Linked DNA regions of Homo sapiens. The protein of the gene in region 1 purifies or fractionates together with the protein of each later gene. This does not show direct contact. Each region holds a gene or a part of one and is shown on either strand. Other genes may lie near its edges. The genes, in order: GBP1, FERMT2 and DTD2.

Region 1 (3,544 bases):
ACAGCCATTTCCTACTTCTCACTCTGTGTTCTCTGGGTCCTAAGGCTGAAGAGATTCTGCAGACATACTTGAAATCCAAGGAGTCTATGACTGATGCAATTCTCCAGACAGACCAGACTCTCACAGAAAAAGAAAAGGAGATTGAAGGTGAGGAGTGAGTTAAGAGATTAGATGGCCTCAAAAGCTCCAAAAATTGAAATAACTTGACTGGATAAACATGGGACCCTTTAACTAGAGCAAGATCCACAAAGGTGTGTCTTACTTGCCGAGGTCATCTCTGAGTAGGGCATATGCAGTCAGCAACAACGACAGGTAAGTGTATAAGGAAGAATGAGGCAACAAGATAACCCCACACAAATTTTTCTTCTGCCTTTTCCTCCTCAGTGGAACGTGTGAAAGCTGAGTCTGCACAGGCTTCAGCAAAAATGTTGCAGGAAATGCAAAGAAAGAATGAGCAGATGATGGAACAGAAGGAGAGGAGTTATCAGGAACACTTGAAACAACTGACTGAGAAGATGGAGAACGACAGGGTCCAGTTGCTGAAAGAGCAAGAGAGGACCCTCGCTCTTAAACTTCAGGTATCTAATTGCATCACCTTGAGGTTTCTGTTTTTCTGTTTTCTCTCCATTCTCCCTGATCGCAAACTTAGTGTGGCAGAGAGAACATGAAGCCCAGGGTAAGGACCCTGCTTGCTTACTTGTACTTTTCAATTCCTGTCTGTCCAGCCTGACTGGCTACTGCCAAGTCTGGTCACTGAAAGTTTTTTATTTGCAGTTGTGTAACATTCAGTCCTTTATCAATATATCCTTCATTTCAAGGAAGCTATTATCTGCTAGGCATCATTAAAATATCTGTATCTCGGTGGGGCATTGTGGCTCACGCCTGTAATCCCAGCACTCTGGGAGGCCAAGGCGGGCGGATCACGAGGTCAGGAGATTGAGGCCATCCTGGCTAACACGGTGAAATCCCGTCACTACTAAAAATACAAAAAATTTAGCTAGATGTGGTGGCGGGCACCTGTAGTCCCAGCTACTCAGGAAGCTGAGGCAGGAGAATGGAGTGAACCCAGGAGGCAGAGCTTGCAGTGAGCTGAGATCGCACCACTGCACTCCAGCCTGGGCAACAGAGCGAGACTCCAAAAAAAAAAATCTGTATCTCTTGCTTAATAACATATGTAGCAAGAACTATATCCTTATTACTTAGAAGAAGAAACAAAGGTTCCAAAAAGAATAAATAATTAAGTTCACACAGCTAGTAAATATATCAGAGCTGTCTTCATCACTTAGCGGAATCCACAATGATTATTTGTTTCTGTGACACCTACTATGAAATTAGATTTAAGAAACCTTTATGAGCAGAAAGGCTCCTAACCCTCACACCTGTGTGATACTCTGCTAATTCTGATTATTTTTAATGTCCTGCTCCCAGTTTGTTTTGAGTTGTGAGCTATGTGCAGAAACTCAGTATGGTCAGTCTGGCACTCAGATTTCTTACCTGTCTTCTGCTACCCCTGACACCAAGGTGTGGCAGCTTAGACCAAATTTCCTAATCCATGATTCATACACCTTATGAGATTTTGAGGATACTTTGCTTATTTCGGTGTTATGTCATATACATAATAGGGTAAGGAACATGGCTGTGCTTTGGTCAATGATAGGCCAAAGTATGACATTTACGTCTTGCGTGACTCAGAGAAAATTAAATAACAAATCATTTAATGTGGAAACCAGATAGAATGTTTCAATTTGCCTGATGCTACACTTTACTCAGCCTTCGTTTGTCCCTTTTTAGGAACAGGAGCAACTACTAAAAGAGGGATTTCAAAAAGAAAGCAGAATAATGAAAAATGAGATACAGGATCTCCAGACGAAAATGAGACGACGAAAGGCATGTACCATAAGCTAAAGACCAGAGCCTTCCTGTCACCCCTAACCAAGGCATAATTGAAACAATTTTAGAATTTGGAACAAGCGTCACTACATTTGATAATAATTAGATCTTGCATCATAACACCAAAAGTTTATAAAGGCATGTGGTACAATGATCAAAATCATGTTTTTTCTTAAAAAAAAAAAAAGACTGTAAATTGTGCAACAAAGATGCATTTACCTCTGTATCAACTCAGGAAATCTCATAAGCTGGTACCACTCAGGAGAAGTTTATTCTTCCAGATGACCAGCAGTAGACAAATGGATACTGAGCAGAGTCTTAGGTAAAAGTCTTGGGAAATATTTGGGCATTGGTCTGGCCAAGTCTACAATGTCCCAATATCAAGGACAACCACCCTAGCTTCTTAGTGAAGACAATGTACAGTTATCCGTTAGATCAAGACTACACGGTCTATGAGCAATAATGTGATTTCTGGACATTGCCCATGTATAATCCTCACTGATGATTTCAAGCTAAAGCAAACCACCTTATACAGAGATCTAGAATCTCTTTATGTTCTCCAGAGGAAGGTGGAAGAAACCATGGGCAGGAGTAGGAATTGAGTGATAAACAATTGGGCTAATGAAGAAAACTTCTCTTATTGTTCAGTTCATCCAGATTATAACTTCAATGGGACACTTTAGACCATTAGACAATTGACACTGGATTAAACAAATTCACATAATGCCAAATACACAATGTATTTATAGCAACGTATAATTTGCAAAGATGGACTTTAAAAGATGCTGTGTAACTAAACTGAAATAATTCAATTACTTATTATTTAGAATGTTAAAGCTTATGATAGTCTTTTCTAACTCTTAACACTCATACTTGAAAACTTTCTGAGTTTCCCCAGAAGAGAATATGGGATTTTTTTTGACATTTTTGACTCATTTAATAATGCTCTTGTGTTTACCTAGTATATGTAGACTTTGTCTTATGTGTGAAAAGTCCTAGGAAAGTGGTTGATGTTTCTTATAGCAATTAAAAATTATTTTTGAACTGAAAATACAATGTATTTCACTAGGCTTCTTATTTCTGATTTTCTTTTTTGCAGTTATTTTTATCAGAAAATAAGGTTTTACTCTTTATGGCAATGGCTGGTAATCTTTTCTGTAAAATACCAGATAGTAACGATTTATGGCTTTGCAGGTCATACAGTCTCTGTCTGAATTACTCAGCTCTGCATGTAGTGCAAACACAGCCATAGAAAATACATAAACCAATAGGTGTGGCTATGTTCCAATCAATTTTTACTTTCAATAACAGGATGGCACCCATAAGCCATAGTTTGCAGAACTCTGTTTTACAGAAACATTGGTCAGAGTTTTATATACCTGCATTGTGTTACTCACATGTATAAAAATCATATGGATTAGACTATATATATTACAATCTTGAAAAAACTATGCGGTTATTCAAAATAACACAGTGAGAAAAAAGCAAGGAAGCAGCTAATGCCATTAAATCCACATTAATAATCCTGTCTTTCCTAATTGCTTTGAGGCCTTTTGTTACCTTGAACTACCTGTGATCCAATCACACGGCAAATGCCTCCTTTCACAATAGAGCATGGTGCTGCCAAGCACTGTTTCTTCACTTGAACTGAAAC
Region 2 (3,654 bases), on another chromosome or scaffold:
GGGCTTCCATCATGAGCATCATAAGTGGGGGTCATTGTTTTACTATACAGTCCTGGGCTTGAATATATACTTCCTAATAAGTAACATGAAAAACAGGTAGTAAGTATGCAGTACAGCATCTTATTTTTCAATAATAACACATATTATGATATAAAGCACATTGTGAAACAAAAGTTTTATTCTGAAAGGAAAGCTTAGTATATTATTTTACCTGTTATGAAAACATGTGTAATTAATTCTCCTTGTATAACATTAAAACACGTAATAAAGCCTTAAGAATATAATTAAGTTGGCAGAAATTCTGGGGAAAAAAAATCAGTTCAAGAGAATTAGAAAATAAGGATATAGCTGAAGCAGACAGACCAACACTTTTTGTCTTTAAATTGTGGCAAGGCTCACCTTTCAGAGGGCCAATGTAAAGAACATCAGTGCCTATAGGAAAGGAAAGAAAGGAATTCAGAAGGTAAAGGAAAGGCCACAACAGAGGACAGAAACAAAAGAATGAAAAGAAAATGAGAAAAAGAAAAAACAGATTTTCCCTAATTGTGAATCATAAACTGAAGTACACATTTCAAGTGGATTTCAGAGTAAAGAACCTTAGAAGCTACAACCTAAGTAAAACGGTTTTTTTTGTTCAATTTAAAAGAATGAAGTTGTGCTGTAGTCAAGTATATAGTGACAAATATGTCTACAACTTTTACCACCATTTGAAATCCATACAATTTGAAGGTAACACAATAGAACTGAATTCATATAGATTAAGAATAATTTTATAGTAAAGTCTTCTCAGTGAATAAACAGGTTTCAACAATTTTACAAATAAAGTTTTTTTTAATTTTTAAGTTCTGGGGTACAACAAATAAAGTATTAATGTAAAAGGGGAGATAAAAGTCTGCCCTAGAAAGAGTCTAAACAGAGATATATTTAATAGTCAAATCTCAAAAGGAAGGGATATTGCCTTATTTATCTTCTGATTTCTTAGTATTAGGGCTAGACATATAGTAGAGGTTACGTAAATAACAATTTGTTACATTAGTCAACAGATGGTATGTGCTCCTTTATTTAAACTACAAAAATTAAGGAGATGAATTTAAGGCATCTAAAAATGTTCAGAATGACATTAAGGACAAGCAGCTCCCCCAAGTCCTAGCTCTGTTAAATTATATTTTGTCCTGTTGTCATAATTTTTCAAAAGAAAATGTGCAATGGGCATAACACTGTTAATGTAAAGAAAATGGCTTTTCCATTCCCTAAATTTAGGGTTAAGCTTAGAAATCCATCTCCTTTCCTACTATTTTTAACTCTTCTCCCCATGCAATGATAGAAACACTGCCTGTGAAAAAGTGGTGCTAATGCTAGAGATTTTTGTAGCTGTCATGACCTAGTCTAGGAAGCAAAGTTAAAAAAAAAAAGTTTTTACTGAAAATATGTAATCTCTTGCTGGACACAGGATATTTGATTTTATGTCCCTGACATGTGTTCTTCCAATGTTAGTACTAAAAAAAACCTGTAAAATCTAGGCCAGGTGTGGTGGCTCACTCCTGTAATCTCAGCACTTTGGGAGGCTGAGGCGGTTGAATCACTTGAGGTCAGGAATTCGAGATCAGCCTGGCCAACATGGAGAAACCCTGTCTCTACTAAAAACACAAAAATTTGCCAGGAGTGGTGGTGCACGCTATTCGGGAGGCGAAGGCTGCAGTGAGCCAAGATTGCATCAATGCACTCCAGTCTAGGCAACAAAGCAAGACTCTATCTCAAACAAACAAACAAACAAACAAACAAAAAACCCTCTAAAATCCGAACACTGTTAATCCTAAAACACAAAGCAAAGTTGTGAACTCTTTATCAGCATTTAAAGAATACTGGGATCGTTAGTCCTGGGGCTTTAAAAGCTAGATCCTTAAACTAGACAGGTATTTTTCAAACTTAAAATTGTGTGACACCTTTTGAAAGGACTAATTGGGCACCCCACACTTATTAAATGTGCTGAACACATTACTCCAACTCAGTTGGGCAAAGGGTATTTCTGCTACAGAGTGTGCATGTAGATAAAGTGTGAAAAAACATTAACTTCTAGGCAAAGTCTTGTTTCTTTCAAAGATCTATTAAATAAATCTGTTACGAAGAATGTCAGTATACTGAAAATGTGCACCTGGTGAGATTATAATTTCTATCCAAAACTGAGTCAAGTTAGAATGGACAATTTGCTTTATAAAGTTTCTAATATAGAAAAGATACTCCCCCTAAATCACTGATATGGTTTGGATCAGTGTCCCTGCCCAAATCGCATGTCTAATTGTAATCCCCAATGTTGGAGGAGGGGCCTGGTGGGAGGTGACTGAATCACAGGGGTGGAGTTCTCATAATGGTTTTGCACCATCCCCGCTTGGTACTGTATAGTCAGTGACTTCTCATGAGATCTGGTTGTTTAAAGTGTGTGGCACCTCCCCACTCCCACCCCTACCTCCTGTTCCAGCCACGTGAAGTGCTGGCTCCTCCTCCGCCTTCCGCTGTAATTGTAAGTTTCCTGAGGCCTCCCCAGGAGCTGATGCCACCATGCTTCCTGGACAGCCTGCAGAACTGTGAGCCAATTAAACCTCTTTTCTCCTAAGTTACCAAGTCTCAGGTATTTCCTTATAGCAATTCAAGAATGAACAAATACAATCACACATTTAATAGAATCAGCCACCCACCCAAATCTGCGTTTCAACTTCCTATAGTTTGTATCTTCTTCAATTCATACTTAATCACTTCGTTGTTCTTATTTGTTCTGTAGGCACTATGTGATAATAAACTCACTTAGCGTTCACAACAACTCTATTATTCTCACTTCAGAGGAGCAAACTGAGGCAAAGCAAGGTTAAATAACTTGTCCAAGGTCAAGAGCAAGTAAGCTGCAGCCAAGCTATAAATCGGCCAGTCTGGGCAGGCGCGGTGGCTCAAGCCTGTAATCCCAGCACTTTGGGAAGCCAAGGTGGGCAGACTGCCTGAGGTCAGGAGTTCGAGACCAGCCTGGCCAACATGGTGAAACCCCGCCTCTACTAAAAATACAAAAAATTAGCCAGGCATGGTGGCAGCCTGCCTGTAATCCCAGCTACTTGGGAGGCTGAGGCAGGAGAATCACTTGAACCCGGGAGGCGGAGTTTGCAGTGAGAGACTGCACCATTGCACTCCAGCCTGGGTGACAAGAGCGAAACTCCGTCTCAAAAACAACAAACAAAAAAACCCCAGCCAGTCTGGCTGTAGGGCTACACACTGCCTCCATGTACTATAACTTACGTAAGCCATTCCCAATTGGTGTGCACCTATTTTTTAAAATTCTGTTACTGTAAGGTGGCTCATGCCTGTAATCCCAGCACTTTGGGAGGCCGAGGCAGGCAGATCACCTGAGGTCAGGAGTTCAAGACCAGCCTGGCCAACATGGTGAAACTCTGTCTCCACTAAAAATATAAAAAATAAGCTGGGTGTGGTGGTGCACGCCTATAGTCCCAGCTACTTGGGAGGCTGAGACAGGAGAATCGCTTGAACCGAGGAGGTGGAGGTTGCAGTGAGCAGAGATTGTGCCACTGCAGTCCAGCCTGGGTGACAGAATGAGACTGTGTTTCGAAAAATAAAAATAAAAAAATAAAATTCTGGCCAGGTGCGGTGGCTCAT
Region 3 (4,212 bases), on another chromosome or scaffold:
GAAATCTTAAGCATATTTATATTTGGACACATGCAATGTCAGAAATAAATACCTAATCATTTGCAGAACGATACCTGTTCTTTCCACTAACATTATCTCCTCATTAAGGTCTTTGCCTTTCATTTATTCCATAATAGATGTTAAGCTGTGACTTCAAGTCAAAAATCACTTTCCTTATAACTTCTTTGGTATAAAACATTTCAAATATATAGAAAAATACAGATAATTCTCACTGTAGCTTTAAAAAGTTCACTTACCAGGAACAAAAACATTAGTCTGTGACAGCAAAGTTCTAAATGAATGAAACTAAGAACAAGCAAAGAAAGTAACCTTCAAATCTTGACAATTAAAATGCTGTTTCTAAAAAAACAAGAACTTTTAATAATAGAACAGGGTAGAGAATATGTAAGAAGAAAGAATTTACATTTTCTCACCATCTAAATTACTTGTCAGCTCTTTAAACTAATTTAGTTATGTGTGTAGGAGTGAAAGGGAAAGCCTTTAAAATAGTTTTTAAGTTTATAAACACAAACTGATAGTTTGGATGCCAGCAATAAAATACATGTGATTTTGCATAAGGAGATGTAGCCTGAACAACATAAAAAAGATAAATAAGCATGGAAGGAAACTAAATGACTGATAGTTTGCAATTATAGTGTCTGGATGCAACTATAAAAATGGATAATTCGGCCGGGCACGGTGGCTCAAGCCTGCAATACCAGCACTTTGGGAGGCCGAGGTGGGCGGACCACAAGGTCAGGAGATCGAGACCATCCTGGCTAGCACGGTGAAACTCCGTCTCTAGTAAAAATACAACAAATTAGCCAGGCGTGGTGGTGGGCGCCTGTGGTCCCAGCTGCTTGGGAGGCTGAGGCAGGAGAATGGCGTGAACCCGGGAGGCGGAGGTTGCAGTGAGCCGAGATTGCGCCATTGCACTCCAGCCTGGGTGACAGAGTGAGACTCTGTCTCAAAAAAAAAAAAAAAAAAAGGATAATTATTTTATTTATTATTTATTTTTGAGATGAGGTTTCACTCTGTGGCTCAGGCTGGAGTGCAGTGGCGTGATCTTGGCTCACTACAACCTCTGCCTCCCGGATTCAAGAGATTCTCCTGCCTCAGCCTCCCGAGTAGCTGGGATTACAGGTGCCCGCCACCAAGCCCGGCTAATTTTTGTATTTTTAGTAGAGACGGGATTTCAACATGTTGGCCAGGCTGGTCTCAAACTCCTGACCTCAAGTGATCCGCCGGCCTTGGCCTCCCAAAGTGCTGGGATTACCGCGCCTGGCAGGTTAATTCTTTAGATAGGATGGCAAAATAAAATAATAAAATTTCAAATAAGGAAATCAAGACCTCACAAAAAATCATGACAAAAATAAGAAATAAGAAAAGTGAATTTCTGGGAAAGGAGAGAGATAAGAATACAGGAATTTCTATGCTTATATTTCCAAATTAGCACAGGGCAACAGATTCTGATTTTAGAATAATCACCCACACATCATATAGTTCACGGGTACTATTTACAATAAGTAGGCGGGGTGCGGTGGCTCAGGCTTGTAATCCCAGCAGTTTGGGAGGCTGAGGCAGGTGGATCACCTGAGGTCAGGAGTTCCAGACAAGCCTGGCCAAAATGGCGAAACCCCGTCTCTGCTAAAAATACAAGTTAGCGTGGTAGCTTGCGCCTGTTGTCCCAGCTACTCGGGAGGCTGAGGAAGGAAAATTGCTTGAACCCGGGAGGCGGAGGTTGCAGTGAGCCGAGATCGTGCCACTGCACTCCAGCCTGGGCGACAGATCGAGAATTCATCTCAAAAAATAAAATAAAATATAAATAAATAAAATATAAAAAATAAAATAAATGTAAAATAATAACTAAAATTGTTTTAAGTAATGCTAGATCTGGGACCGAATTCAGCAGAAAAGGCGAGCGAATGAGATTTTGCTACACTGAAGTTTCTGAGTATCTACAAAAGTCTTAATTATGAACTAATTTTTTTCTTACATTTCAACGTACTCCAAAAATACGTCAGAGGCCTTAAAGAAAATTTTATTTGTTTTTGTATGCAGTGGGGGCAGGCGGTCTTAAAAAGTAAAGTATGTATGAAAGTAGAAGGAACTCATAGTGACATAAATGTTTTAAATTCTTTGGAGAAATGTGTTTGATAAGGCAACATTGTTATAAAAGTAGAGGTCTTTGTTTCTCAGTTGGAAATTGGTCAAAACTTTTAAAAGGCTTCTTGAAATAGAATTGTTTCTTAGGAAATCTCATTTCTATGCTAAGACCAAGTCAACATAGGGGGGAATTCGACGCGATCTGAGGCGTAAGTCAAAGCAGATCATGAACTCTTGCAGCAAACCTGACCTACAAGCTTGCCCCCGACCAGCATAGACCACGAGCTGCAAGGGGTCTGAGACAGTAAGGCCTGAAGTTCACCGAACTCAGTTTCAAATACCTGTGGTCCCCCCAAGAAGGGAGACACGCTCTTCCTCTCGGGTGCTACAACTGGCGCTGGGGAACGGTGATGCTGGACCGAAAAGACAAGCGCAGCCAGGCAGGCCACCGCGGCCAGCTTCAAGCTGACCCGGTATCCCCGCGGCCGGACCGCCGGTCTCAGAGGGAGACACAGAGCGGACGAGTCACCGAGACAACGCGGAAAAAACCGCCCCGCACGCCGGAGGATAACGAGAGCTGCCGGGCTGACGTTACCTCCACCCACTGGGCCGCGACGTCCCCATCGGCTGGGCGAATTTGCAGCCGGGCGTGCAGGCACTGCTGTAGGAGCGCCCGGGCCTGAGGAATCCGGCTACCCTCAGCCATGGCTTAAGCCAGCGCCGCGGCCGGACAGTTACTAGGCCATGTGTCGCTGGCCCCTCCCTCGACGCGCTGGCGGGGCAGACGAGGCGGGGCACGACGAAGGGCCTGCGCCGATTGCCCAGTGGCCCCGCCCTTAGGAGGGCGGGGCCTCGGACTGACTCTCGAATGTCCCGGATGTGCGGTCTTGGAGGCCGGCGTAGCGCTAAGCTTCTCGGCAGCACCTGCCCAACTCTGTAGAAGGCGCTCAGTGTATACTTTTATTAAACGATTGAAAAGACTCGTTAAATCTCTTTCCTACAAACCTTTTAAGAAACATTTTTCACCTCAGAAAGCTTAGGTTCCAACTGTTGAAAAATTTTAAATCTGCTTGATTTAAATTCATGTTATGCCCATATGAAAGTAAGTAAACAAATAATCGAATCATAAAGCAAGCGGAGATGGAACTAAAAGCTATATATACATCCTTCAAAATTTTCCTTATTCCAATCAATAAAAACAATGCTGCCTCCTCTATCGGGAATGCCATAAATTATTCTGATTCCACAGTTGTGAAAAGGTATTGGTATGCTATACGAATACACATTCTTTAGAAGATATCCTTGTTAAAAATGTTCTTATCCAAGAAAGTATGATTGTTAATAACTTAGCCCGCTACTAATACAAAAATAAAACAGCTTATTCTGATGCATATGACGTAAATTCTGTGATGCATTTTCTGGAAGTACATATTAGAATGTAAATAAAACTAAACAAGGGCTTGATTTTCTTTCCCATGTAACGTATTCCTTAAACATGCATCAGATTAGCATTTATTTGTCTATGGGCTTGGATGGTTTAGATGAGGAATAATAGTGTTACCCTGATTGCATTACCCAGGTCATTGATTTGGGCTCAGTTGACACAATGTGCCTATACATTCGGATCTGTTGTTTAAAAAGATGACATCACTGACAGTGTTGCTATCCATACAAAGTAGTGTGACTGAAGAAAATAGTCCATGCATAATCAACAGTCCTTTGTACACAAAATCGAAGCTGCTTGTTTGCTGGTTATCTTGCAGCCAGGTTTACACTTTTAGTAAAAACAGAAAGCAAAATCTCACATGATCTCTGATTGTTGCATTGCAGGGATTCCAACAGTTGTTGACATTTGTCTGCAAAGCACAGACAAGTTGAATTGCTTCATGTCTGCACCTTTATGTCATTATAACTACTGAGTCTCTTTTCTCTCCGGCTCTCAGATTCAGATTTTACAGGCCTGAAAGAAACTTTGACATACAAACCATTAGCTATGTCCCAGAATAAGAAAAGACTTTGGTGTCCATTTGTATGTGGCTGCAGGAAATAGGGAGGTCTATAGAGAATAGGTTATGTGGTTCGCAGAGATCTTTCTACAGAGAGGGT

What was found.
Region 2: the proteins of GBP1 (region 1) and FERMT2 fractionate together in Homo sapiens (co-fractionation; one large-scale study listed by BioGRID). This does not show direct contact.
Region 3: the proteins of GBP1 (region 1) and DTD2 fractionate together in Homo sapiens (co-fractionation; one large-scale study listed by BioGRID). This does not show direct contact.

The regions. Positions count from the first base shown.
Region 1 is NC_000001.11:89,051,716-89,055,259, reverse strand, and holds the end of GBP1 (guanylate-binding protein 1), read left to right. Parts: intron 1-44; coding exon 45-147; intron 148-384; coding exon 385-578; intron 579-1,791; coding exon 1,792-1,905; 3' UTR 1,906-2,941; downstream 2,942-3,544.
Region 2 is NC_000014.9:52,881,397-52,885,050, forward strand, and holds part of FERMT2 (fermitin family homolog 2), read right to left. Parts: intron 433-3,654; coding exon of another isoform or gene 400-432; intron 74-399; coding exon 1-73. UniProt on the Homo sapiens protein: Scaffolding protein that enhances integrin activation mediated by TLN1 and/or TLN2, but activates integrins only weakly by itself. Binds to membranes enriched in phosphoinositides.
Region 3 is NC_000014.9:31,454,582-31,458,793, forward strand, and holds the start of DTD2 (D-aminoacyl-tRNA deacylase 2), read right to left. Parts: upstream 2,926-4,212; 5' UTR 2,813-2,925; coding exon 2,702-2,812; intron 1-2,701. UniProt on the Homo sapiens protein: Deacylates mischarged D-aminoacyl-tRNAs. Also deacylates mischarged glycyl-tRNA(Ala), protecting cells against glycine mischarging by AlaRS. Probably acts by rejecting L-amino acids from its binding site rather than specific recognition of D-amino acids.